Homo sapiens: one gene and its partners. The protein of the gene in region 1 purifies or fractionates together with the protein of each later gene. This does not show direct contact. Each region holds a gene or a part of one and is shown on either strand. Other genes may lie near its edges.

Region 1 (3,500 bases):
AGCTAACTTTTTATTTTTATTTATTTATTTATTCATTTTGAGATGGAGTCTCACTCTTGTCACCCAGGCTGGAGTGCAATGGTGCAATCTCGGCTCACTGCAACCTCCACCTCCAGGATTCAGGCTATTATCCTGCCTCAGCCTCCCAAGTAGCTGGGATTACAGGCATGCACCATGCCCAGCTAATTTTTGTATTTTTAGTAGAGACAGGGTTTCACCATGTTGACCAGGCTGGTCTCGAACTCCTGACCTCAGATGATCTGCCCGCCTCAGCCTCCCAAAGTGCTGGGATCATAGGCATAAGCCATGGCACCAGGCCTTACTTTTTTATTTTTTGTAGAGACAGGGTCTTGCTATGTTGCCGAGGCTGGTTTTGAACTCTTGACCTCAAGCAGTCCTCCTGGCTCATCTTTCCAAAGTGTTGGGATGACAGGTGTGAGCCACCACACCCAGCTGAGAAACATTTATTATCGTCATCATCATCATCTTTGCTAATTCTGATTGAGGCTATTCTGTGTGCCAAGCACCATGTTAAGCATGTTATTTATAATCTTTTCTTTCTTTTTCTTTTTAATTTTGAGACGGAGTTTTGCTCTTATTGCCCAGGCTGGAATGCAATGGTGCAGTCTCGGCTCACTGCAACCTCCGCCTCCCGGGTTCAAGCAATTCTCCTGCCTCAGCCTCCCAAGAAGCTGGGATTACAGGTGCGCCACCACACCCGGCTAATGTTTGTATTGTTAGTAGAGAAGGGGTTTCATCATGTTGTCCAGGCTGGTCTCGAACTCCTGACCTCAGGTGATCCACCCGCCTCGGCCTCCCAAAGTGCTGGGATTACAGGCATGAGCCACCACGCCTGGCCTAAGCTTTTCTGTAATTCTCACATTGCCCTAGTGGGTAGGTGCTAGAATCTCTATTTTACTGATGTGGAGAATGAGGCTAAGCTTAGAGAGGTCAAGTGACTTGCCTAAGGTCACACAGCTAGGATGTGAAAGAGCAGGAATTCAAGTCCAGGGCCCCGTGACTCCAAAGCTCCCATCTTATACCATTTCTAGGGGCGTGTTAACAATTTTAGAAGGGGTGTCTGGGAAACCGCCAGCCCTCTTCAGCCCCTCACCGAGTGAAACTGCAGGAATTGTTCATTATTATCACTGATGTTGACATTGTCATTAACTTCTTTTCCTTCCCTTCCCCTCTGCTAGAGTTCTTCAAGTTCAAGGGCTTTGGGAGTCTCTCCAACCTCCCTCGGTCCTTCACTCTGAGACGATCCTCAGCTTCCATCAGTAGGCAGTCCCATTTGGAGCCTGACACCTTTGAAGCCACGCAGGATGACATGGTGACGGTGCCCAAGAGTCCCCCAGCCTATGCCCGCTCCAGTGACATGTACAGCCACATGGGCACCATGCCTCGCCCCAGCATCAAGAAAGCACAGAACTCACAGGCTGCCCGGCAGGCCCAGGAGGCGGGTCCCAAGCCCAACTTGGTACCCGGAGGTGTACCCGACCCCCCAGGCTTGGAGGCAGCCAAAGAGGTGATGGTGAAGGCCACTGGCCCTCTAGAGGACACCCCAGCAATGGAACCCAACCCTTCAGCAGTGGAGGTAGACCCCATCAGAAAGCCTGAGGTCCCCACAGGAGACGTAGAAGAGGAGAGACCTCCCAGGGACGTGCACTCAGAAAGGTAGGTGCCCAGGGGCTGGTTGGGACCTGCAGGGATGGCTTCTGTTTTTTTCTTTTTCTTTTTTTTTTTTTTGACACAGAGTGTCGCTCTGTCTCTCAGGCTGGAGTGCAGTGGTGTGATCCCGGTTCACTGCAACCTCTGCCTCCCGGGTCCAAGCAATTCTCCTACCTCAGCCCCCCGAGTAGCTGGGACTACAGGCGCCCAACACCACTCTTGGCTAATTTTTGTATTTTTAGTAGAGACAGGATTTCACCATGTTGTCCAGGCTGGCCTCGAACTCCTGACCTCAGGTGATCTGCCTGCCTCGGCCTCCCAAAGTGCTGGCCGGGGCTTCTTTTTAACCCAGTACACATCTGGGTTAAAAAGAAAAAAACCTACACATTGACCAGGTGCTTACTGTAGACCAGGTACTGTGCTAAACCCTTTACTTGTAATTAGCAAAAGAAAACTGGCAAGGAGAGACTGTTACTGTTTCCACAGGACAGATGAGGAAGCTGAGATTCACAGAGTGACATCATCTGCCTCAGTCAGGGTGCATATTTGCTAATGACAAAGCCAGCATGTGAACCGAGACCCCCTGCCTTCAAAGTCCCAGTTAGCCTCTAGCATGGGCCCTCAGCTGCTGGATGGGTCCTAAACCCAGTCACTAGACCCCTGCCCTGAACCCCCTCACGCAAATCATCACCATTAGTTCTGCTGGACAATACCTCCACCTAGTCTAGAAAACCATTTGTCAGCTTAATTTGGTTATAGGGTGAGTTGAGTTCATGTAAAAATACAAATTGTGATGATAGGACAATAGCTCCCATTTAGTAAGCATTTTTACTGGGTATCAAAACAAGTATCTCACTGAAAACTCCATAGAAGATTCAATCATTAAGGCTGGGTGCAGTGGCTCATGCCTGTAATCCCAGTATTTTGGGAGGCTAGGAGTTTGAAAACAGCCTGGCTAACATGGTAAAACCCCGTCTCTACTAAAAATACAAAAACTAGCAGGGCGTGGTGGTGCGTGCCTGTAGTCCCAGTTACTCAGGAGGTGGAGGCACGAGAATTGCTTGAACTTGGGAGATGGAGGTTGCAGTGAGCTGAGATCACACCACTGTACTCCAGACTGGGCAACAGAGCAAGACTCAGTCTTGAAAAAAAAAAAAAAGATTCAATTATTAGCCCCACTTACAGATTGGGAAACTGAGACTCAGCCAAGGTTACACAGAACTGGGATTTGAGCAGGAATCTGCTTGCTTCCAGAGGCTGCACACTTATGTACCACATTAGACTCACCACCTTCTCAATCCTAGGGCCATGCCTTTCACACCCCGGGAGACCCCTCAATCCCAGCCAAAGGAGTCCCCGGCTTTTCAATCCTTAGAACCTTTGTCTCAACCACACCAGTCACATGTGCCTGTTGAAATAAAGAAAAAAAGTCAGCTGGCCGGGCGCAGTGGCTCACGCCTGTAATCCCAACACTTTGGGTGGCCGAGGTAGGCAGATCACAAGGTCAGGAGTTCGAGACCAGCCTGGCCAAAGAGACCAGCCTGACCAACATGGTGAAGCCCTATCTCTACTAAAAATACAAAAATTAGCCGGGTGTGGCGGCGGGCACCTGTAATCCCAGCTACTGAGGAGGCTGAGGCATCAGAATTGCTTGAACCTGGGAGGCAGAGGTTGCAGTGACCCAAGATCGCGCCATTGCACACTCCAGCCTGGGCGACAAAGCGAGACTCCAACTCAAAAAAAAAAAAAAAAAAAAGCCACCTGAGCAAAAGTAATTGTAGGGCCAGAGTTCTGGGACCTTTCTTTCTTTTGTTTTTTTCTGGTAACTT
Region 2 (3,500 bases), on another chromosome or scaffold:
AAGGTTCATCAGGGACTTCCCATGAGAAAGTCTTGTCTGACCTCTTATCCTAATAAAAGCAGAGTAAGGACTATACCAGGAGGTTTTCTTATCCTTGATTCATGATTTAAAGATATGAAAGGCACATGCCTATAATCCCAGCCTTTTGGGAGGTCCAGGCAGGCAGATCACTTGAGCCCAAGAGTTTGAGACCAGCCTGGGCAACATGGTGAGACCCTATTTGTACAAAAAAATTAAAAAATTAGCAGGGCATGGTGGTGTGCACTGATAGTCCCAGCTATTCGGGAGACTGAGGTGGGAGGATCATTTGAGCCCAGGAGGTTGAGGCAGCAGTGAGCAGAGATCATGCCACTGCACTCCATCCTGGGTGACCGTGAGACCTTGTCTCCAATTTAATTTTTTTTTAAAGCCGTCCTTTGGGGTACTGGCTAGTGGCATGTGGCTTTGATTCTTAGCAACAGGCCTGTGGGTAAAATAAAGGACTTCAAGGATTGGATGTTTTGTAGCTGATTGAATAACTAAAAAAAAAAAAGAGAGAGAGAGAGAAAAAAAAAACACAGCCTGTACCACCCTCCTCGTGGTTTCCAGGATCATATACATTCTATGTTCAATATCAAAAGACTGGCTGGAATTGTAAAAGCAAAGTCATTGAGTACAGTCACATTTATAGGAAAGATCACTGACGAGATGCACGCACAATCCCAGCATTGTCTGCTAAACGGTAAGGCAGCTTCCCGAAGAAGAAAGGCCGTGGTTTGCTGCAGGAACACATTCAGCAGGGTTTCAAAGCCCCCTTCAGCTGGCAGGCTACAATGGCAGAGAAGTCAATGTCTCATGGATTATTCTACAAAGTATTTGGGATTCTTATGGAGAAAGGAGGAGAACTGCAAATTTTGAGAGAGTCCAACAGGAATCGCTAACCGCAGGATTCGCTAACTGAAGGAATCGCTAACTGAAGGAATCGCTAACTGAAGGGGAGACTAAGTACCTGGAAGAAAGCAAGCTCAAGGACTGTACATCATCTCTGCAGCTGCATTTCTTTCTTTCTTTTTTTTTTTTTTTTGAGACAGAATCTCGCTCTGTCGCCATGTCACCAGGATGGGGTGCAGTGGCGCAATCTTGGTTCACTTCAACCTCCACCTCCCGGGTTCAAGTGATTCTCCTGCCTCAGCCTCCAGAGTAGCTGGGACTACAGGCACATGCCACCACGCCCAGCTAATTTTTGTACTTTTAGTAAAGACAGGGTTTCACCATGTTGGTCAGGATGGTCTTGGTCTCTTGACCTTGTGATTCACCTGCCTTGGCCTCCCAAAGTGCTGGGATTACAGGCGTGAGCCACCGTGCCTGGCCTTGCAGTTGCATTTACACATGCAACAGTAATACAGCCAGATTCCCAATATCTGTGAAATCCATGTAATACTGCACCTTTAAAGTAATCACCCTTATTTGCAGAGAATGCAGTAAAGTGGGTAACTGTTTAAGATCTCATAGCTAATTAGGTACATGTCTAGGACAATAAGCACGCAAATGTCCCTGACACCCCTTCCGATGTCCCCCCATACCTGGAATATCACAAGGTCTGCGGCTTCCAGCTTCTTTTGTTCAGCCACAATATCTGGGCTCAGATGGCCTTCTTTATAAGCCAGAACAGACTCGGCAGGATACTGAAAGTTCGCAGGGTCCTTCAGTTTACCTGCAGAGAAGAAAAAGAGAGGCTGGGGCCAGAGGGGCCAAAGCTGGGCCAGAGGACCCACAGGCAAGGAGATCCGCAAAGAACTAATTAAAGAGGGGAGGAGGAACTCCTCCTACCTGTGATGTCCTTTCTGGAAATGATGGGATTGAAGTTCATGGCATAGAGGTCCGACTCCACCACCTCCCATCCTTTCTTCTTCAAAGCCGCTGCAGCAGCCTCCTTCATGGCATAGTTGAAGGACGTCCTCTCTGAGTGAGCCAGTACGATCAGTGCTCTTCTGCCTACAGAGACACACACAAAGCACACACGGAAAACCCATTACCAACCAGCAAACCTTCAGCTACAGGGGAGTTGCAGTCTGTAAAGGAGGGGGCGGCTTTGTTTGACATTAGGTTATTGCATTCCATCTCCTGTAGCCAGAAATGTATTTTCCCCTTAAAAGCACTGAAGATTAAAGGAAGCATTTAAATCAGTGGCTGATTTAATAAATAATGTTGACAACTGGGCTCTGTGGCTCATAACTGTAATCCCAGCACTTTGGGAGGCCAAGGTGGGCAGATCACCTGAGGTCAGGAGTTTGAGACCAGCCTGGCCAACATGGTGAAACCCTGTCTCTACTAAAAATACAAAAATTAGCTGGGTGTGGTGGCAGGCACCTGTAATCCCAGCTACTTGGGAGGCTGAGGCAGGAGAATCACTTGAACTCGGGAGGGGGAGGTTGCAGTGAGCCAAGATTGCACCATTGCACTCCAGCCTGGGTGACAATGGGAGACTCCGTCTCAAAAAAAAAAAAAGATGCTCTGCGTGACCTGTCAGGAAAAGCAAAATTAAAATGAGACATTTACCCATTCGTTTACATGGGTACTGTGTTTACATTTACCGTGAGTTTACATTTACCCACAAAATGTAAAACAAATAACACCCAGGGTTATTAAGATTGTACCAACAGAAAAATTGGCACCTTACTGGTGGGGATAAGAACTGCCTCAACCTTTAGGGAAAGTAATGAGGCAGAATCTCTTGAAACTTTAAAGACACATAAATCTTTTATCTCGCTCTCCAATTTGGGGGAATCTGTTCTACAGACTAAAAGCTTCAGGCTATAAGAGCAAAGATGTGTATTACACCATGCTTTTCACTGGCAAAAATTAGATATAACCTGATTGTCTATGGGGAACATTTTAAGAAATTATGGGTACATCCACACTACAGGATATTTTGCTGTTAACAAGAATGAGTTGGCCAGGCACGGTGGTTCGAGCCTGTAATCCCAGCACTTTGGGAGGCTGAGGCGGGCAGGTCACGAGGTCAAGAGATCAAGACCATCCTGGCCAACATGGTGAAACCCTGTCTCTACAAAAATACAAAAATTAGCTGGGTGTGGTAGCGGGCACCTGTAATCCCAGCTATTCGGGAGCCTGAGGCAGGAGAATCGCTTGAACCCAGGAAGCAGAGGTTGCAGTGAGCTGAGATCTTGCCACTGCACTCCAGCCTGGGTGACAGAGTAAGACCCTGTCTCAGAAAAATAAATAAATTAAGATAAAAGTAAAAAATATATAAAAAAGAATGAGTTAAACTGGCTGGGCACAGTGGCTGGAGCCTGTAATCCAGCTACTTGGAAGGCTGAGGCGGCAAGATCCCTTGAGGCCAGGAGATGGAGACCAGCATGGGCAGCATAGTGACACCTTGTCATAAAAAAAAATTTTTAGAGACTGTTGACCAGGTACGGTTGCTCACGCTTCTAATTCCAGCACTTTGGGAGGCCAAGGCGGGAACATTGCTTGAGCCCAGGAGTTCAAGACCAGCC
Region 3 (3,500 bases), on another chromosome or scaffold:
GGTGAGAGAGATGAGGGTCTCCTTATAAGACACGAAAGATTACAAGTGGGGGCGTGACATGACCTAACTGTTTTAGAAAGCTGTTTAGCTACAGTGTGGAGAATAGCTTAGAGCAGAATTGCAAGCTTTTTCTGTAACAGGCCAGACAGTAAATATTTTAGGCTTTGCAGGCCATATGGTCTCTGTCACAATTACTCTGCCATTACAGTGCAAAAGCAGCCACAGACCATACATAAACAAATCAACATAGCTCTATTCCAATAAAACTTTGTTTGCAAATAGCAGCAAGTTCAATTAGAAGGTTAAGAAATGGAATGAGGAGGCTTCTAGGACTAATCCCAGTAAGAAATAGTGGCTGGATCAGCAATAGTGAATAGGGAAAGTCATGGATGGATGGATCTGAGAGAGCTTTAAGAATGGTTAAGGAAAGATTGATAGTAGAAAAACTGCAAAAGAAAGATCAGCATTAGATTGGATGTAGGAGACCTCAGGAATGGCAAGGGCTAAAAATATTTCATCTGGAAGACAGTGAGTTGAGAAGTAACAGTTTCTTAAACTAGGTTATTTTATCTGTAATAAATTTTTAAGACAGAAAATGAAAATCCTAAAACAATAACCCAAGTACTGTGAAATAACCCAATCCCTGTGAAAGGCAGGCAAATGGGCCCCAGATGGAATCCCTTGAATGAGCTTATTATAACCATATATTAAAATCAGGTCATAAACTAGCAGCCTCAAGATATATTTCGTTTTGCCCAGCCACTGTTTCTTTTTAAACAAATAGGAACATCACATGAAAATTCAGATTTCCTGCTTCTCTTGAAGAGTGTGACTACAGTTGACATCAGCTGGCACATACTGACCTGTTTTTAGCCCCCTGCTGCCCTCATTCACTTTACCTGTCCAAATCCTGCAGGAATCTGACTTTGTAATTCCTGCTTTCTAGAGAATGGAAAGGTAACTAAAACTAGTATAAATGCCAGAACGAGGTACAAAATGAGGTACAAAAAAGTTGGAAAACTTCTCGATAATGAGAAAGTATAGGCAAACAGACTTCCAGTTTTGTCCATGAACCCTGGTAACTCTCCGAGCAAGTAGTGTGGTGCCAAGGGTGGTCACCTGGTGGACACCGGGGAAATAATTAGAAACAGAATCTCCCACCACCCCAGAAAACCTCTCCAAAAAAAAAAGAAGGGTAAGAAACAGTTTTATTACTGAATAAGTATTAAGCCAAACTGATGTTCAATCACAGGCTAATTTGCTAAGAGATAGCAAAGATAAACGCTCACCCTTTAATATAGCCAAGCGGACACATTCCAATACAATTTGCTAAGATAAAAGATGGCTAATGACAAAAATTCTCTCCTTGACCAAACTTTAGTTAGGTTTAGGTGGGCCTGACTAGGCCTTGTCCTTAGGCATGTCTTCCAATAGCCCGATTTTAATAAGAGTCATGCTAAGTGAGCTTAGCGAGAATCCCTCATCCTGATACATGACCACTCTTGACATCTGATCTGAGTTCTCATTCTCTACCATCCCCCAGGTAATATGTGACCGCCCTGGCCTACCTTCAGCAAAAGTCCTGTTAGATCAGTTTAGCCAAAATACCACCCACTTACCCTCATGTTTCCTCTCAGTAATTTTTCATCCACTGACCACCCCCCACACACCCTGCTCCTTGGCTATAAAGCCCTACTTTTCCTTACTATATTTGGAGTTGAGCCCAATCTTTCTCCTACCACTGCAAAACTCCATCACATTAGTCCCTGTACCTATCACAACAGTCCTGAATCAAGTCTGCCTTACCATTTTAACAAGTGTCATGAATTATTTTTTCTTTAACACTAGTCCTCAAATAGGAAAACTTGAAACCACCATTTGTCACACACATAGTTTATCCTAAACTTACTTGGTAATAGGGATGGCCACCTGTGTTAACTGCCCTTCTCTAAAGGAGTAATAAAACTTTTCATACCTCTGTGACAGGTAGATAGTTACAAATTGGACGCAAACACCTAAGTTAAACTCTCCTGAGACTGGGAGATAGGTGAGCTATCTTCCTTGATGTTTATATTTGAAATTGGTGACTCTAGGCCCTTAAAGAAAAGTATTCCTGAGCTATAAAACTGGCTTATTAGGCCTTTAGAAAGACTTACATTCATTACAAAGGCACAGAGAAAGAATTCCAAGTTTTCTAAAGGAAAACTCCAAGAAAAGGAAGGAAAGAAGTTTTCCTTTATTCATCAAGGACAACTAAATTTTTTCTTATTTATTTCTCTTTACCTTTACATGAACAGCAGCTCAGCTTCATGCACTACAACATAATCACTTTTATGAGGGCAGTATCTTTCTCACAGAAACATGATCTTAATTAAGAAACTACCAGAAAACAAAAATGGTTCAATACCTTCATAACTTCTTCAAGATACCGTGTTGAACTTCCATTTGCATATGCAGTTTGTACAACACCAATATTCAAACTTTCTCCAATCTAGACAAAAACAATGATACTTAACTTGCCATCAAAAGTATGGTCTACAAAAACAAATATAATGAGAGTTCTAAAGGCTACCAAAATTATCAGCCAGTTCAGTTGTGCCTTAGTTTATGCCAAAAATGTCTGACTGAAAATTTACATGTATGCCAGGAAAAAAGCCTAAAATACATTTGAACACTATTTAAAACAATTCTATGAGAATTCCTCTTTTAAGAAGCCTGTATCTCCTGATCTTCACCTCTTTAATTTTTTAAATAAAAGTATCTGGCCAGGCACGGTGGCTCACGCCTGTAATCCCAGCACTCTGGGAGGCCAAGGTGGGTGGATCACCTGAGGTCAAAAGTTCGAGACCAGCCTGGCCAACATGGTGAAACCCCATCTCTACTAAAAGTACAAAAATTAGCCAGGTGTGGTGGCATGCATCTGTAATCCCAGCTACTTGGGAGGCTGAGGCAGAAGAATTGCTTGAGCCCAGGGAGGCAGAGGTTGCAATGAGCCGAGATCACGCCCCTGCACTCCAGCCTGGGCAACAGAGCAACACTGTCTCAAAAAAAAAAAAAAAAAAAATCTATTAAATTCTTAAAGTATGCTGTTTCCAGATTATAATAATTTCCAATTACATTGTGTACTTAAAGCTAGCCTGAGATTTATTTCTAAAATAGCAAAATGAAACAAATCTCACATTACTAAGCTTATCATAATCAGTTAATATATCAGATGATGAGATTTCCTATTAGAATTTAGGGCTTTTATGGAGTGACCACAGAACTGTCATCAAAGTTTCAATTATGATGGAAGCAAAACTTCCTAAAGCTTCAAATCACAAAACTCAGCCAGTATAAGGAGGAAAAGAGTACCTTCAGGTTCCAAAGCCAATGCCTCAAATGTTCAAATGACTGGGTATTACCACTGCTCTTTTTTTAATTTTCTGCCCACTAATGTAAAGAATTTGTCATAAATTGTGCCCTTCTGACAAATGATTGTAAAATATGGAACTATTTCA
Region 4 (3,500 bases), on another chromosome or scaffold:
TGAGCCTTTTTCCAAAGTGGTTGTACCATTTTATACTTCATCAGCAGTGTATGGGAGTTCCAGTTGCTCCACATCCTACCAACTTTTGGTGTTGTCAGTCTTTTACATTTAGTTGTTGGGTGTGCAGTGGTATCTCATTATGGTTTTAATTTGCTTTGCTCTGATGACTAATGATGCAAAGCATCTTTTTACATGCTTATTGACCATTGGTATATATTCCTTTGAAGTATATGTTCAAATTTTCTGTCTTTTTAAAAATTGAATTGCTTTTAAATTATTAATTCATAGCCCATATTTTAAGTTCAATCATGTGGAATCATGTGTAGGCTAAGTGTTATAATAATAAATCTCAACATGTATCATGGTATAAACATATTAGAAATTTATGGCCGGGTGCAGTGACTCACACCTATAATCCAGCACTTTGGGAGGCTGAGGTGGGCGGATCACCTGAGGTCAGGAGTTCAAAACTAGCCTGACCAATATGGAGAAACCCTGTCTCTACTAAAAATACAAAATTAGCTGGGCGTGGTGGCACATGCCTGTAATCCCAGCTGCTTGGGAGGCTGAGGCAGGATAATCACTTGAACCCTGGAGGCGGAGGTTGCAGTAAGCCGAGATCCTGCCATTGCACTCCAGCCTGGGCAACAAGAGTGAAACTCCATCTCAAAAAGAAAAAAAAAGAAATGTATTCCTTTCCTACATGAATGGCCCAAAGTGGTTTGAGGTTGAAGGAGGTGGGTGGGTGCTCTGCTTCCCACAGTTATTGAGGGCACCAGGCTGAAGGAAGCTCCCCCTTGGTCAAACATGGCTTTTATGGGCGTCACTGTCCAGCACAGAAGGCTCAAGAGCGTGGAGAAGGGTATATGAGTGTGGGAAGGTTTAGGGTCCAGGGTCACTGCCACTTACATTCTGTTGGCTAGAACTCTGTTACAGGCCACACCTGGGGTAGTCTACCCCCTGTCCAGGAAGCTGACTCTACTATATTATCCAAAGCGTACATTTCATATTTGGTGAAAATCTGTCCAGCCATTTTCTTGTGATGCGGCAATGGACATGCAACATAATTTCTTTTTAAAGAATATGTCATTTTTACTTTCTGACATTAAGATATTCTGTTAGAAAATTATGACAGTAACAGATGGTATTAAAAAAAAATCTCCCCTTGCTTGGTAAATGCTTTTATCTAAGTGGGCAGCTTTGTGCTAATATGATGTCTTCCACTTCCCAATTAGTTGTGATGCTTTACTGATCTAGGAGAGCTTTATGGTTTGGGACTACTATAGGCGAACACTCTGTTGCCTCCTCTCTCAAGAATCAGAGTGTCCTATTTTGGAAACACAGTCAACCATGTGAAAGCAATTTATTGGGCGTATCTTCTGTGGTCAGATTTGGTTTGCTGACAGGTGAATTGGGAGTTTTGTAAACTTTAATAAGTGAGCATTGAGTCAGATGTGTTCATGAGTATGACCTCGATCCACTTAAAAATTCTTATTTCTTTTTCTCTCTTGGCAGGAGGGAGGTGGTTGTGCAGGTATTCCCAGCCACTTTGAAGGGAACTTAAATGGGAACTTTATTGCTCACTGCTTAGAATGCCATGGGCTCTTCTTTTGAGATACTTACCTTTAACCCATTTCCTTTTTTTTTTTTTAAGTGCAGCTTGCTGCCAGTGCTCTTTTCTTGGGGGTAAATGGGAAATGTTAATAAGTAGCCTCTGATCCCTTTAAAATGGGAGAATTTGAACATTTCAAACCTTACCTTTTTATACAGTTCTCTTATTACCTGGGAGAGAGGTTAAGTCTTAGACTATCCATTTCTGTCAGTGAGTTGCCTATGCATTATAGCCTGTGAGGGTCTATATTTTTTTAGGGTAATCCTGGTAATAACTGCATTGATGTTACACTGCTAACATTTGGGATGGAGAAGGGGTGACTGAGTGACTTAACCCTTGGTCCACATGTGCTTTCATTTCTCCTGAAATATACCTAGGTATGGAATCGCTAAGTCATTATGTGCAGTGGGAGAGACTATGGGAGATGGGACAGAAATTTTTAAGGTTTCATTTCTTTTTTTTAGCTTTTGCATGGTGGGTAGGTCTATGCAAACCTACCCCCAAAGTCTGAGGAAGCTGAGAGGCCAAAGAAAGAGGCTGACAAATCAAGTTTCTCAGAAAGAAATGTTTAGTAGGGACTTAGGACCAGAAACCATGTCTGTGTCTTGCGTGTTGGCGAGACAAGATGGTGGATCCCATACCATTACCCCTCAGACCCAGGGCTTAATACCATAGGGAAGGGCGATTCAGAAGGGAGGTATGGCATGACTGAAGTATGATAATGTCAAGGTTGTTTGACCTCAGGGCAGGATTTATAGTAAATAGGGGCTCTTTCACAAGGAATAATAGATAAACTGGAAATCTTAAAACTGGAGTTAATCAGAAGTCAGCATGGTGGATCAGTATCTAAGACGGAATTGCTTTAGCTTCCACAGCAGTCAATATCTAGACCACCCTTATTATTTTCCCACAGACCAAGAAATTTGAAGGTCAGGACAGTCTTTGGTTTCCTGTACGTGGGTGTATACGTTGTAGGCACTTGAATCTTTGTTGAATAAATGGAGAATGTTAGGCAGTTATTTGCTAGAAAACGCTAGGCACATTCTTTATCACAGAATGAAAAGACGTCATTATGACTCCTCTGGGACTGATGGGCAATTTGCATTAACCAATCTTTTAATTAAAAGTGGAAGAATATGTTTAGGTTCTTGAAACTTCTGTGAGTGAAGGGAACTACTAAGTGGAAAGTGTAATATGTTGATAAAATATTTCACCAGATGAAGCCAACCTTACTCCTCCCAGGAAAACTTCTTCATTTATGTATTAGCTCTGGCCAAAAGAAGCCTATAAAGGCAGCAAAGTCAAAATAGAATTTTACTTTAAGTCCCTACTTCTAATAATTGTGCTAGTTTTTAGCCAAGCTAATTTCTGTGGCAGTTTTCATAACAAGTGTGTCTAAAGGTGTTTGATCAGAATTTATAAATTAAAATATTTCTCTCATTTTTTGGAGGGGCGATGCAGGGAGAGGGATAGACTGTTGCTGCTTCCTCCTGCTTGTTAGAAAGGCTCTTGGCCATATCATATTGGTCCGTGGTTTAGTTTATTTGCATGCTGAATCCACACACATTTGTTTTATGTTTGTTAGTATATTGAGCAGTGTATTAGGGATCAGGTATATAGATGTAAAAGGAGTACACAGTCTAGAGAGGAAAAATAGTGACAGGCTGGGCGCGGTGGCTCACGCCTATAATCCCAGCACTTTGGGAGGCCAAGATGGGCGGATTTCTTGAGGTCAGGAGTTTGAGATCATCAGCCTGGCCAACATGATGGAACCCTGTCTTTACTAAAAATACAAAAATTAGCTGGGTGTGGTGGTGGTCGCCTGTAATCCCAACTACTTGGGAGGCTGAGACGGGAGAATTGCTTGAACCCGGGAGGAGGTGGAGGT
Region 5 (3,500 bases), on another chromosome or scaffold:
TTTCTTGCAAGCTGTTAGGCATTTTTCTTATCACTTCTAAGACCTCTTTACATACATAGTAGAGAGATTAGCTTTCTATGAATATGACTTGTTAATATTTTTTCCAAGTTTGTTGTTTTGCTCTTTGTTATGATAATTTTGCCCCCACCCCATTTTTTTTACATACTCAAAATTATACATCTTTTCTTTTTTGGCTTCTGCATTTTGAGTCATTAGAAGGCACTCCAAGTTTGCAGGATAAGTCTCCCACATATAAAACTTTTATGGTTTTGTTTTTCCTGGTTATATCTTTGATCTATTTGGAGTTTGGCCTGGTATAAAGTGTGAGGTATGGATCTGAGTTAGTATTTTTAAACTGGGTTTGGAGTTTGGCCTGGTATAAGGTGTGAGGTATGGATCTGAGTTAGTATTTTTAAACTGGGTTTGGAGTTTGGCCTGGTATAAGGTGTGAGGTATGGATCTGAGTCAGTATTTTTAAACTGGGTTTGGAGTTTGGCCTGGTATAAAGTGTGAGGTATGGATCTGAGTTAGTATTTTTAAACTGGGTCCATATTTCATGAGATGATTGGTCAAGTGGCATGCACGGTTTATGCCCTCTCTCCTGCTCCTCCAGGACAGACCGTCATCCAATTGCACCACTGGGTTTGCTTCTTTTTCTGTTTATGATCATTGGAATGAAACCAGTTTTCCCATCTAAAAATCCCAGCTAAAGTAAACCTAGTAAAGCTTTGTCTCTCCCAGCCAAAGAGGAGGGAGACCAGCCACAGATCATGATAAAGGACAAGATTCCCATAGATTTCAGGAAGAAGGACCAGTGGAGGGGGCAGAAAGAGCATTTTCCCTCTTGAGCAGTCTCCCAAAAGGGTGCGCTTTTGACAACTGCTCAGTAGCGTGTTCACAAGCTGTGGGTCAGGCTGGTGGCACAGGGCAAACTCCAGCCAAGGAGACGTCTAGACAAGATAGCAAAAGGGAGAGTCTTTCTCATGAGCTGTTCCCACCACCAACCAAGGAGCAGCCCTGCCACCCCACCTGGAGGCTCATTCTGCTTTGTCCCCAGGGGTGTTGAGTAAGGTGGTTAGCTTTTCTTCTCGCTTCTCTGCACCATGACAGGAGAATTCCAGTAACTATTACCCTGATTCACGGTGCCAACTGAGCAGGGCACAGGGTTGCCAGGTGATACATGGCACCCAGGTAAACATGAATTTCAGATAAACAGTAAATGCACTTTTAGCTTAAGTATATCCCAAATATTGTTTTGGGACATACTAAAAAAAATTATGTGTCATTTTTCTGAAATTCAGATTCACTGGGCATCCCGTATTTTTATTTGCTAAATTTGGCAACCTGAGTAGAATGTAAAGAGTTGGGAGAAGAAAGACTGTGACCACTTCAGACCTGTGTCACTCATGGACTAACTTTGCTGCATGGAAAAGGGAGATAGAAGTGTAAATATGTCCCAAACCTCCAGAGGATGAGACTAGTCTATCTCCCCATCTCTCCCCTGCTCCAAAGAGCCCAGCTCTGTGCATCAGAGGAATATTTGCCTGCAAGGCTCATTAGTTACATGGATCATGGCTTGACAAGAACATGCAGAGGGAGGATGGCTGATCATGTTGAAGGCCACTGAAAACATGAGATGGCAGCCACTGCCCAGAAGGAAGCCAGGCTGTACTTCTTGTTTGTGTCTTGCAGATTGATCAAAAGCAGTTCGACAAAATCTTAGAGCTGATCGAGAGTGGGAAGAAGGAAGGGGCCAAGCTGGAATGCGGGGGCTCAGCCATGGAAGACAAGGGGCTCTTCATCAAACCCACTGTCTTCTCAGAAGTCACAGACAACATGCGGATTGCCAAAGAGGAGGTACAAGGGGGCTGTGGCAAGGCTACGACTTGCGGGGCCTTTCAAACACGAGTCCTTCCCTAGGGCCCAGGGATCCCAGAAATCCTTGTGATCTGAGTGTTTTTTTGTTTTTGTTGCTGTTGTTGTCGTTGTTGTTTTTTCTGTGTGGTCTTTCCCCTCTCCTTTGGGGTCCCTAGGGAAGCCGTTTTGTCCTGCCTCTGGCGAACTCCAAGCATGATACAGCAGGTACCTTGTTTGTTCTAGCTAGTTTTCACTCATGGCTCACCCTCTCTGGGAGCAGCAAGCCCTCTCTGATTTTCTAACACAACCGGTCCCCGAGTCAGTCATGCAGCCGCAGGTGGAGAACTGTTGCCACCTGTGGGTTTTGCCAGGAATCAGTTCAAGAACCTGTGGATTCAGGGCCCAAAGCCGCCTTCAGTGCCCCTAGACTGAATTTCAAGTGTTCACTCAAGGAACATGTCACAGCTGGAATTTTTATTGACATTTTCCACCACGGACGTCTTGAAAATGAGGGAAATTAAGGAGACTCCCCCACTCCCATAAGAGTGTAAATCTTTCTCTTTCAACTCCACTGTTACACTAGACGGGAACTGGTTCCCACACAGCATTTGTAAGAGGAGAGCTGGATCCCAGGAGGTTAGACCCTGGAGGTGGTATTTTGGGGCACATAAAAGGATGAGTCCCTGCCAAGGGCTTTCTGGGGCAGGTATTTCAGAGGCGTCTTCCTTGAGATTGTTATGTGCCGTGATGGCATGAAGCTCAGCTCCTTAAACATCCCTGTGACGAGAGGTCCTGGGGAACCCGGAAGGTATTTTGGCAGGCCAGGCACCATCCTGCCGGCTTATAATTATGTCTAATATTGAATCAATTACAAGCTCCCTTCAAAATCACCTTTAAATGTTCAAGCCTTAGTTCTTCCATTTCCTTTTCTTTGCTGTGTCACAAACTGTGGTGAATATTGTGTCATTCCTTCCCCTGGTAGTTATTATGGAAACGTTCTAGGGTGTCTTCCTTGGTAGAAAACACAGCTCCAAGAGGTAGGAGCACAGTCTTACAAAGTGCCTGCAGATATCCTTCAGGACAACTCCGAAAAAAGTTACCTAAAGGTTTTGTGTTCTGTGCATCTATGGGTTACTCCAAGGCTCTCTGGCTGGGTTTCTCGGAAACCCTGATGACAACAAGACATCTTAAACACAACATATATTTTTTGTTATTATTTTTTATTTTTGTTTCATGTTAATCCTTCCCTTCAGTCTCCAATGGCAATGCAGCTGAAGCAATGTTTGGACGTTCTTTCTTCTCTAATCATCGTTTTTCAGGCATGTGTGTGCTCTGGGCATATGAAAAACATGTAAAGAGAAGGAAATGCTTGTTCACAGCATGCATTTCCATTCAGTCATGCCTCTCATTGCCATTCTTGCAATTAATCATAGATTTTCGGGCCAGTGCAACCAATACTGAAGTTCAAAAGTATCGAAGAAGTGATAAAAAGAGCGAATAGCACCGACTATGGACTCACAGCAGCCGTGTTCACAAAAAATCTCGACAAAGCCCTGAAGTTGGCTTCTGCCTTAGAGTCTGGAACGGTCTGGTGAGTTGACTGTGTGTGTATTTCAGCTCTCCTGAGTTGCTTCTTGCTAAGT
Region 6 (3,500 bases), on another chromosome or scaffold:
ATTATTAATAACAGCCAAAAACCGGAAACAACTCAAATGTCCATCAACAGATAAAAGAAGAAACAACCCCAGCACTTTGGAAGGCTGAGGCGGGCGGATCACGAGGTCAGGAGATCGAGACCATCCTGGTTAACAAGGTGAAACCCCGTCTCTACTAAAAATAAAAAAAAAATTAGCTGGGTGTGTTGGCGGGCACCCGTAGTCCCAGCTACTCGGGAGGCTGAGGCAGGAGAATGGCGTGAACCCGGGTGGCAGAGCTTGCAGTGAGCCGAGATCGCACCACTGCACTCCACCGCACTCCAGCCTGGGCAACAGACCAAGACTCCATCTCAAAAAAAAAAAAGAAGAAACAAATTGTGATTTATCAGCACGAGAGAAAACGTACAAACTACTGATACACACACCAACAATGGTAAGTCCCGGAGATGTTATTTTAACAACGGAAGACAAAAAGAGCACATACTGAATGATTCTAGAACAGGCAAAACTAATGAACAGTACCATTAACCAACAGTGGTTCCCTAGGGCTGGGGTGAGGGGACTGACAGCAAAAGGACATCAAGTAACTCCTTGGGATGACAGAAATGTTCCATATCTTGATAGCGCGGGGTGTATACATTTACCGAAACTCAAACATCTTACTAAAATGGGTGCATTTTATAGTAGGTAAATTTTAAACTCAATAAAATTAAAACTCAATAAAATGTTCTAAGAATAAAAATTTATAATCGTGGATAAAGAGTAGCATTATTTACAAACCATATAATATTTACCTGCTAAGAAAACCCAGAAGAAACAACTGGCCGGGCACGGTGGCTCACGCCTGTAATCCCAGCACTTTGGGAGGCCGAGGCAGGTGGATCACCTGAGGTCAGGAGTTCAAGACAAGCCTGGCCATCATGGTGAAACCCTGTCTCTACTCAGAATACAAAAATTGGCCAGGCTAATTTTACAGGTGGCGCCTGTAATCCCAGCTACTCAGGAGGCTGAGGCAGGAGAATCGCTTGAACCCAGGAGAAGGAGGTTGCAGTGAGCCAAGATCACGCCATTACACTCCAGCCTGGGTGACAGAGCAAGACTTTGTCTCCAAAAAAAAAAAAAGACTGAAAAACTATTGAAGTAAACATTTCATCACACAGTGAACCTCATAGACATGATGCTAAGTGAAAAAAGCCAGTGCCAAAAGACCTCCTACTGCATGATTCCATCACACAAAATGCTGAATACACACAAACCCAGAGCCAGATGAGTGGTTACTGCGGAAGCAGAGAATGGGAAGGAATTGTTGATGGGAGTTGGGTTGCTTCAGATGATGAAAATGCCTAGATTGTGGTAGTGATAGTTACACAACTCTGTAATACACTAATACACTAACACTAAAATGTATATTTAGAAGAGTGAACTCTATAGTATGTAATTATATCCCTATAAAGATGTTAAGAAATGTATGTTTACACATACATATTCCATTACAGTGTTGCCATTTACAAAAACAGTATACAAAACATATCTTCACTAGACATCAGCAATAACTAGTTAGAACACATAACAAATAGTTTCACAAGAGCAATAAAAGACAAAACATACCTAGAAATAAACCTAAAAAAAAGTCTCCAGGAATCATCTAAAGAAAATCACCAACCTTCACTGAGGAACACAAAAGATGTGAATAATTAGAGACATAATACCATGATCTTAGACATGAAAATTAAATCTTAGAAAGACTTCTCCCCTACATGAATTTGTGAATTTAATAGAATTCCAAAGGGTGGAGAGTGATAAAATAATTCCGGAGTTCATCCGCATTAATGAACGGGCTACAAAACCATCAAGAAAATAAGAGGAAAGGATGCCAGGCAAAATATAAACTAACATCAAACAAAATGACCCAGGCCAGGCGTGGTGGCTCACGCCTCTAATTCCAGCACTTTGGGAGGCCAAGGCGGGCAGACTGCTTGAGGTCAGGAGTTCGAGACTATCCTGGCCAACATGATGAAAACCGTTCTCTACTAAAAATACAAAAATTAGCCAGGCGTGGTGGCACATGCTACTCGGGAGGCTGAGGCAGGAGAATCTCTTGAACCTGGGAGGCGGAGGTTGCAGTAAGCCAAGAACACGCCACTGCACTCCAGCCTGGGTGACAGAGCGAGACTCCATCTCAAAAAAAAAAAAAAAACAAACAAACGAAATGACCCAGAAAAAAGAGCATACAGATAGGTCAATGGAACAGGATAAAAAATCTAAAAGCAAAGGCTAATATATTTGAATATTTAATATAGATTTAAAATGGCATTTCAAGTAGGGGAGAGGCCACTAAATCATCCAATAAATGAGGCTTACATAACTGATTAGGAAAAATAAACTTTCTAACCGTACTACCAAAGGCCAAACACAAAGAAACTGATAGTTTGACAAGCTAAATATTTCTAAAACTTCAGTAGAGACTGGGTGCAGTGGCTCACACCTGTCATCCCAGCACTGTGGGAGGCCAAGGCAGGATTGCTTGGGGCCAGAAGTTCGAGACCAGCCTGAGGAACACAGCGTGACCCTGACCCTGCAAAAACAAAATTTTTTTTTTTTTGAGACAGTCTGGCTCTGTAGCCCACGCTGGAGTGCAGTGGCACGATCTCGTTCACTGCTACCTCCGCGTCCTGGGTCCCAGTTCAAGCAATTCTCCTGCCTCGGCCTCTCAAGTAGCTGGGATTACAGGCATGCTTCACCATGCCCAGCTAATTTTTGTATTTTTAGTAGAGACAGGGTTTCACCATGTTGGTCAGGCTGGTCTTGAACTCCTGACCTTGTAATCCACCCGCCTCGGCCTCCCAAAGTGCTAGGATCAGAGGCATGAGCTACTGCGCCTGGCCAAAAAAAAAAGTTTTTTAATTAACTAGGCATGGCAGCTTGTGCCTGTTGTCCCAGCTCTGCAGGAGGCTGAAGTGAGAAGATCACTTAATCCCAGGAGCTCAAGGCTGCAGTGAGCTATGACTGCGCCACTACACTCCAGCCTGGGTGACAGAGCGAGATCCCATCTCTTTAAAAAAACAAACACGAAAAAACTTCAGTAGATAAAATACACCAGACACAATATTAAAAGGCAAAAGCAGGCCGGGCACAATGGCTCACACCTGTAATCCCAGCACTTTGGGAGACCAAGGTGGGCAGATCACGTGGGGGTCAGGAGTTTGAGACCAGCCTGGCCAACATGGTGAAACCCTGTCTCTACTAAAAATGCAAAAAATTAGCCAGGCGTGGTAGCACACGCCTGTAATCCCAGCTACGCTGGAGGCTGAGGCAGGAGAATCGCTTGAACCCTGGAGGCAGAAGTTGCAGTGAGCCAAGATTGGGCCACTATACTCCAGCCTGGGCAACAGAGAGACTACATCTCAAAAAAAAAAAAAAAAAAGAAAAAAAAAAAAGCAAAAGGGTGGAAAAATGTGCAACAAATGACAAAGGACCAGCATCCCACGACTACATTTTCCTTTTTCTAAAAAGGAATTCCA
Region 7 (3,500 bases), on another chromosome or scaffold:
GTTAGCCCAGGAAATCCTCACAATAAAACCATGAGATAGATACTATTGTGCCCATTTTATTTTTAGAGACAGAGTCTCATTCTATTGCCCAGGCTGAAGTGTAGTGGTGCAATCACCACTCACTGCAGTCTTGATCTCCTGGACTCAAGCGATCCTTCCACCTCAGCCTCCCAATTATCTAGAACTACAGGTGTGTGATACCATGCCTGGCTAGTGTTTTTAATATTTTTGTAGAGACAGGGCCCCACTAAGTTGCTCAGGCTGATCTCAAGCTCCTGGCCTCAAACGATCCTCCTGCCTTAGCCTCCAAAGCACTAGGATTATTGTTCCCATTTTATAGATTGAAAAAATGAAGAAAAATTAATTATTTTGCCCATCATAATACCACCACTAAGTGACAGAATCACATTATTTGGTATATTTCACAGATAACCAAAAAGTTTTATGCTGGAGCTTACCCTTTTAAATACCCTAAAATTAGATGTGTAAAATTTCCCTTTCTTAATCACAATTTAGGAAAGTTTCCATAAGCACTCATATCTTTTTTAGGCATTTATTACAAGATGTTGAAAATCTAATCCTGTGTTATCCAATATAATACCAACTAGCCATATGTGACCATTACACACATAAAACATGGTAGGTCTAGGCTGGGTATAAGTAGCTTACGCCTGTAATCCCAGAGCTTTGGGAGGCTGCGGCAAAAGCACTGAGGTCTGGGGTTCAAGACCAGCCTGGGCAACATAGCAATACTCTGTCTCTATAAAAAAAAAAAAAAAAAATTAAGAATTAGCTAGGAGTGGCAACACACACCTTAAGTCTCAAGTGCTCAGAAAGCTGAGGCAGGAGGATTGCTTGAGCCCAAGAGTTTGAGACTACGGTGAGCTATGATCACATCACTGCACTACAGCCTAGGTGACAAAGTGAGACCCTATCTCTTAAAAAAAAAAAAAAAAAAAAAAAAAAGGCCAGGTGCAGTGGCTCACGCCTGCAATCCTAGCACTTTGGCAGGCCGAATCATAAGGTCAGGAGTTCAAGACCAGCCTGGCCAATATGGTGAAACCCCATCCTACTAAAAATACAAAAATTAGCCAGGCATGGGTGGGGGGTGGGGGGCACCTGTAGTCCCAGCTGCTCAGTAGGCTGAAGCAGAAGAATCGCTTGAACCTGGGAGACGGAGGTTGCAGTGAGCCAAGATTGTGCCACTGCACTCCAGCCTGGGTGACAGAGTGAGATTCCAACTCAAAAAAAAAAAAAAAAAAAAAAAAGGCCGGGCCTGGTGGCTCACACCTGTGATCCCAGCACTTTGGGAGGCCGAGGCGGGCAGATCATCTGAGGTCAGGAGTTCAAGATCAGCCTGGTCAACACGGTGAAACCCCATCTCTACTAAAAATACTAAAAAAGTAGCCAGGCATGGTGGTGGGTGCTTGTAATTCCAGCTACTCAGGAGGCTGAGGCACAAGAATTGTTTGAGCCTGGGAAGTGGAGGTTGCAGTGAGCCTAGATCGTGCCACTGCACTCCGGCCTGGGCAACAGAGCGAGACCCTGTCTCAAAGAAAAAAAGAAGAAGAAAACAAATAAATCAATAAATATTTTAAAGAATTAAAGGGTGGCTGGTCTAAATTGAAAAGTGCTATAAGTATAAAATATGCACTAAATATTGAAGACTTGGTAAGAAAAAAAGGAAGGAAATACCTTAGTAATTTTTATACTTATTACATGTGTAAATGGCATTGTGGATATTATTGGTTTAACATGATTAAAATTAACAACCTGGTTTTTTATTGTTGTTGTTCAACGTTTTGCTTTTGAGTCTCACTCTGTTGCCCAGGATGGAGTGCAGTGGTGTGATCTCAGCTCACTGCAACCTCCACCTCCCAGGTTCAAGTGATTCTCCTGCCTCAGCCTCCCAAGTAGCTGGGATTACAGGCGTGCACCACCATGCCCGGCTAATTTTTCTATTTTTAGTAGAGATGGGGTTTCACCATGTTGTTCAGGCTGGTCTCAAACTCCTGACCTCAAGTGATCCACCTGCCTCGGCCTCCCAAAGTGCTGGGATTATAGGTGTGAGCCACTGTGCATGGCCAACAACCTGCTTCATTTTGTGTTTTTAAATGTGCCCAATAGAAAACTTGAAATTATCTATTTGTAGCTTACATTTATAGTTTGCACTATACTACTAATGAATAGCACTAATACAGAATAAATTGCAAATTGAATATAGGATATAATACTTCCCTAAAGGAAATATGAACTGAATATTTATTTTGAAGTAGGCTTACCCATCGTGGTGGTGGTGATGGTGGTGGTGGTGGTGGTGATGCTGTGGACCAATAAATTGTCGACAATTAAATAATTCATTCCCAATAGTCTCCCCAAGGAAGTCCCCAGTTCGTGTGATACAAGACTCCTGAGACCCTTGTGCTATATGAGTAGCATTCATTTCCCCTGAAATATCATGTTCTGGGTCTTCAGAGTGTGAACAAGCATCCAGCATTCGCATTCGATTATCTACTGATGGCAATGATTCAGTGTTAAAAACCAGGTCCTTTCCTGTTCCGCTGCTTGTCCCATTTCTTTCTGACATGCCTTGGGAGTCCCCCAGGCAAATGCCTGCTTGACTCTCTAACTTTCTATTCCGAAGATCTGTACCACAACTGCTTTTGGGAGGATTATGACCATGATCATCGTCTTCATCTTCCTCTTTGAGGGCTTCAATATCTGCAATGTCTTCTGACTGTACCTCACTGCCAGGGCTCCCAGCTGACTGGCTTGCGTGGCTAGAATTAACCTCATTGCTAGATCCATCACTATGCCCACTACTGCTACCAGGACCACTGCTTCCATCTTCACCACTGTTGGCAGTTTCGTCAGAACTTCCCTGCATGGATTCCTGTATTTTGAAACAAATAGATTTAAATAAATATTTAAACCAGTAAGAAAAAAGGTAACCAACATTAATAAACTGTACTTTTTAAAAAGGCTGCCAGTCTTGTTATACTCCTTTGAACAATACAAAATGGAATTAAAAACTCAAAGGATGTCAAAAATATTACGTAAAGGAGAGGACAAGCCCAAACATGAATTATGTATATATACCCAATTCAAATGATAAACACGCCAGAAAGCCAAAAATGCCTATAAAAGAAGAAAAACCTATTTTCATACCTCTGTGTCTGAAAGTCGTTGTTGCACATGTTTGGTTCTATTAATAAGTTGCTCATCCATTTCAATGTCACTACCTCCACTTTGATGTGTATCGCTATTATCACTGCTTTGAGGACTAGCTGCAGGTGACCCTATATAAAATACATTTTTTGTTTTTACTTCTAATTTATATTAACATTGACTTAACAGAATGACATTATCATTTGATTCCTTGACCTAGTTACCAAAGCTTTATGCTAAGTAGCCAAAAATAAAATCTCTAAATATGTTAACATTTGCTCATGATTTCTAAAGAAGATGTAAGATTCAATTAAAAGTCAAGATGTTTAAGA

The links.
Region 2: the proteins of SH2D3C (region 1) and NQO1 purify together in Homo sapiens (affinity purification with mass spectrometry; one large-scale study listed by BioGRID and IntAct). This does not show direct contact.
Region 3: the proteins of SH2D3C (region 1) and PGM3 purify together in Homo sapiens (affinity purification with mass spectrometry; one large-scale study listed by BioGRID and IntAct). This does not show direct contact.
Region 4: the proteins of SH2D3C (region 1) and CAT purify together in Homo sapiens (affinity purification with mass spectrometry; one large-scale study listed by BioGRID and IntAct). This does not show direct contact.
Region 5: the proteins of SH2D3C (region 1) and ALDH1A3 purify together in Homo sapiens (affinity purification with mass spectrometry; one large-scale study listed by BioGRID and IntAct). This does not show direct contact.
Region 6: the proteins of SH2D3C (region 1) and TBCD purify together in Homo sapiens (affinity purification with mass spectrometry; one large-scale study listed by BioGRID and IntAct). This does not show direct contact.
Region 7: the proteins of SH2D3C (region 1) and USP34 purify together in Homo sapiens (affinity purification with mass spectrometry; one large-scale study listed by BioGRID and IntAct). This does not show direct contact.

What each region holds. Positions count from the first base shown.
Region 1 is NC_000009.12:127,772,167-127,775,666, reverse strand, and holds part of SH2D3C (SH2 domain-containing protein 3C), read left to right. Parts: intron 1-1,199; coding exon 1,200-1,677; intron 1,678-3,500. UniProt on the Homo sapiens protein: Acts as an adapter protein that mediates cell signaling pathways involved in cellular functions such as cell adhesion and migration, tissue organization, and the regulation of the immune response.
Region 2 is NC_000016.10:69,716,561-69,720,060, forward strand, and holds part of NQO1 (NAD(P)H dehydrogenase [quinone] 1), read right to left. Parts: intron 1,975-3,500; coding exon 1,810-1,974; intron 1,694-1,809; coding exon 1,563-1,693; intron 1-1,562. UniProt on the Homo sapiens protein: Flavin-containing quinone reductase that catalyzes two-electron reduction of quinones to hydroquinones using either NADH or NADPH as electron donors.
Region 3 is NC_000006.12:83,176,266-83,179,765, forward strand, and holds part of PGM3 (phosphoacetylglucosamine mutase), read right to left. Parts: intron 2,492-3,500; coding exon 2,408-2,491; intron 1-2,407. UniProt on the Homo sapiens protein: Catalyzes the conversion of GlcNAc-6-P into GlcNAc-1-P during the synthesis of uridine diphosphate/UDP-GlcNAc, a sugar nucleotide critical to multiple glycosylation pathways including protein N- and O-glycosylation.
Region 4 is NC_000011.10:34,441,934-34,445,433, forward strand, and holds part of CAT (catalase), read left to right. Parts: intron 1-3,500. UniProt on the Homo sapiens protein: Catalyzes the degradation of hydrogen peroxide (H(2)O(2)) generated by peroxisomal oxidases to water and oxygen, thereby protecting cells from the toxic effects of hydrogen peroxide.
Region 5 is NC_000015.10:100,903,831-100,907,330, forward strand, and holds part of ALDH1A3 (retinaldehyde dehydrogenase 3), read left to right. Parts: intron 1-1,692; coding exon 1,693-1,857; intron 1,858-3,290; coding exon 3,291-3,448; intron 3,449-3,500. UniProt on the Homo sapiens protein: Catalyzes the NAD-dependent oxidation of aldehyde substrates, such as all-trans-retinal and all-trans-13,14-dihydroretinal, to their corresponding carboxylic acids, all-trans-retinoate and all-trans-13,14-dihydroretinoate, respectively.
Region 6 is NC_000017.11:82,758,565-82,762,064, reverse strand, and holds part of TBCD (tubulin-specific chaperone D), read right to left. Parts: intron 1-3,500.
Region 7 is NC_000002.12:61,345,588-61,349,087, forward strand, and holds part of USP34 (ubiquitin carboxyl-terminal hydrolase 34), read right to left. Parts: intron 3,300-3,500; coding exon 3,169-3,299; intron 2,894-3,168; coding exon 2,283-2,893; intron 1-2,282. UniProt on the Homo sapiens protein: Ubiquitin hydrolase that can remove conjugated ubiquitin from AXIN1 and AXIN2, thereby acting as a regulator of Wnt signaling pathway.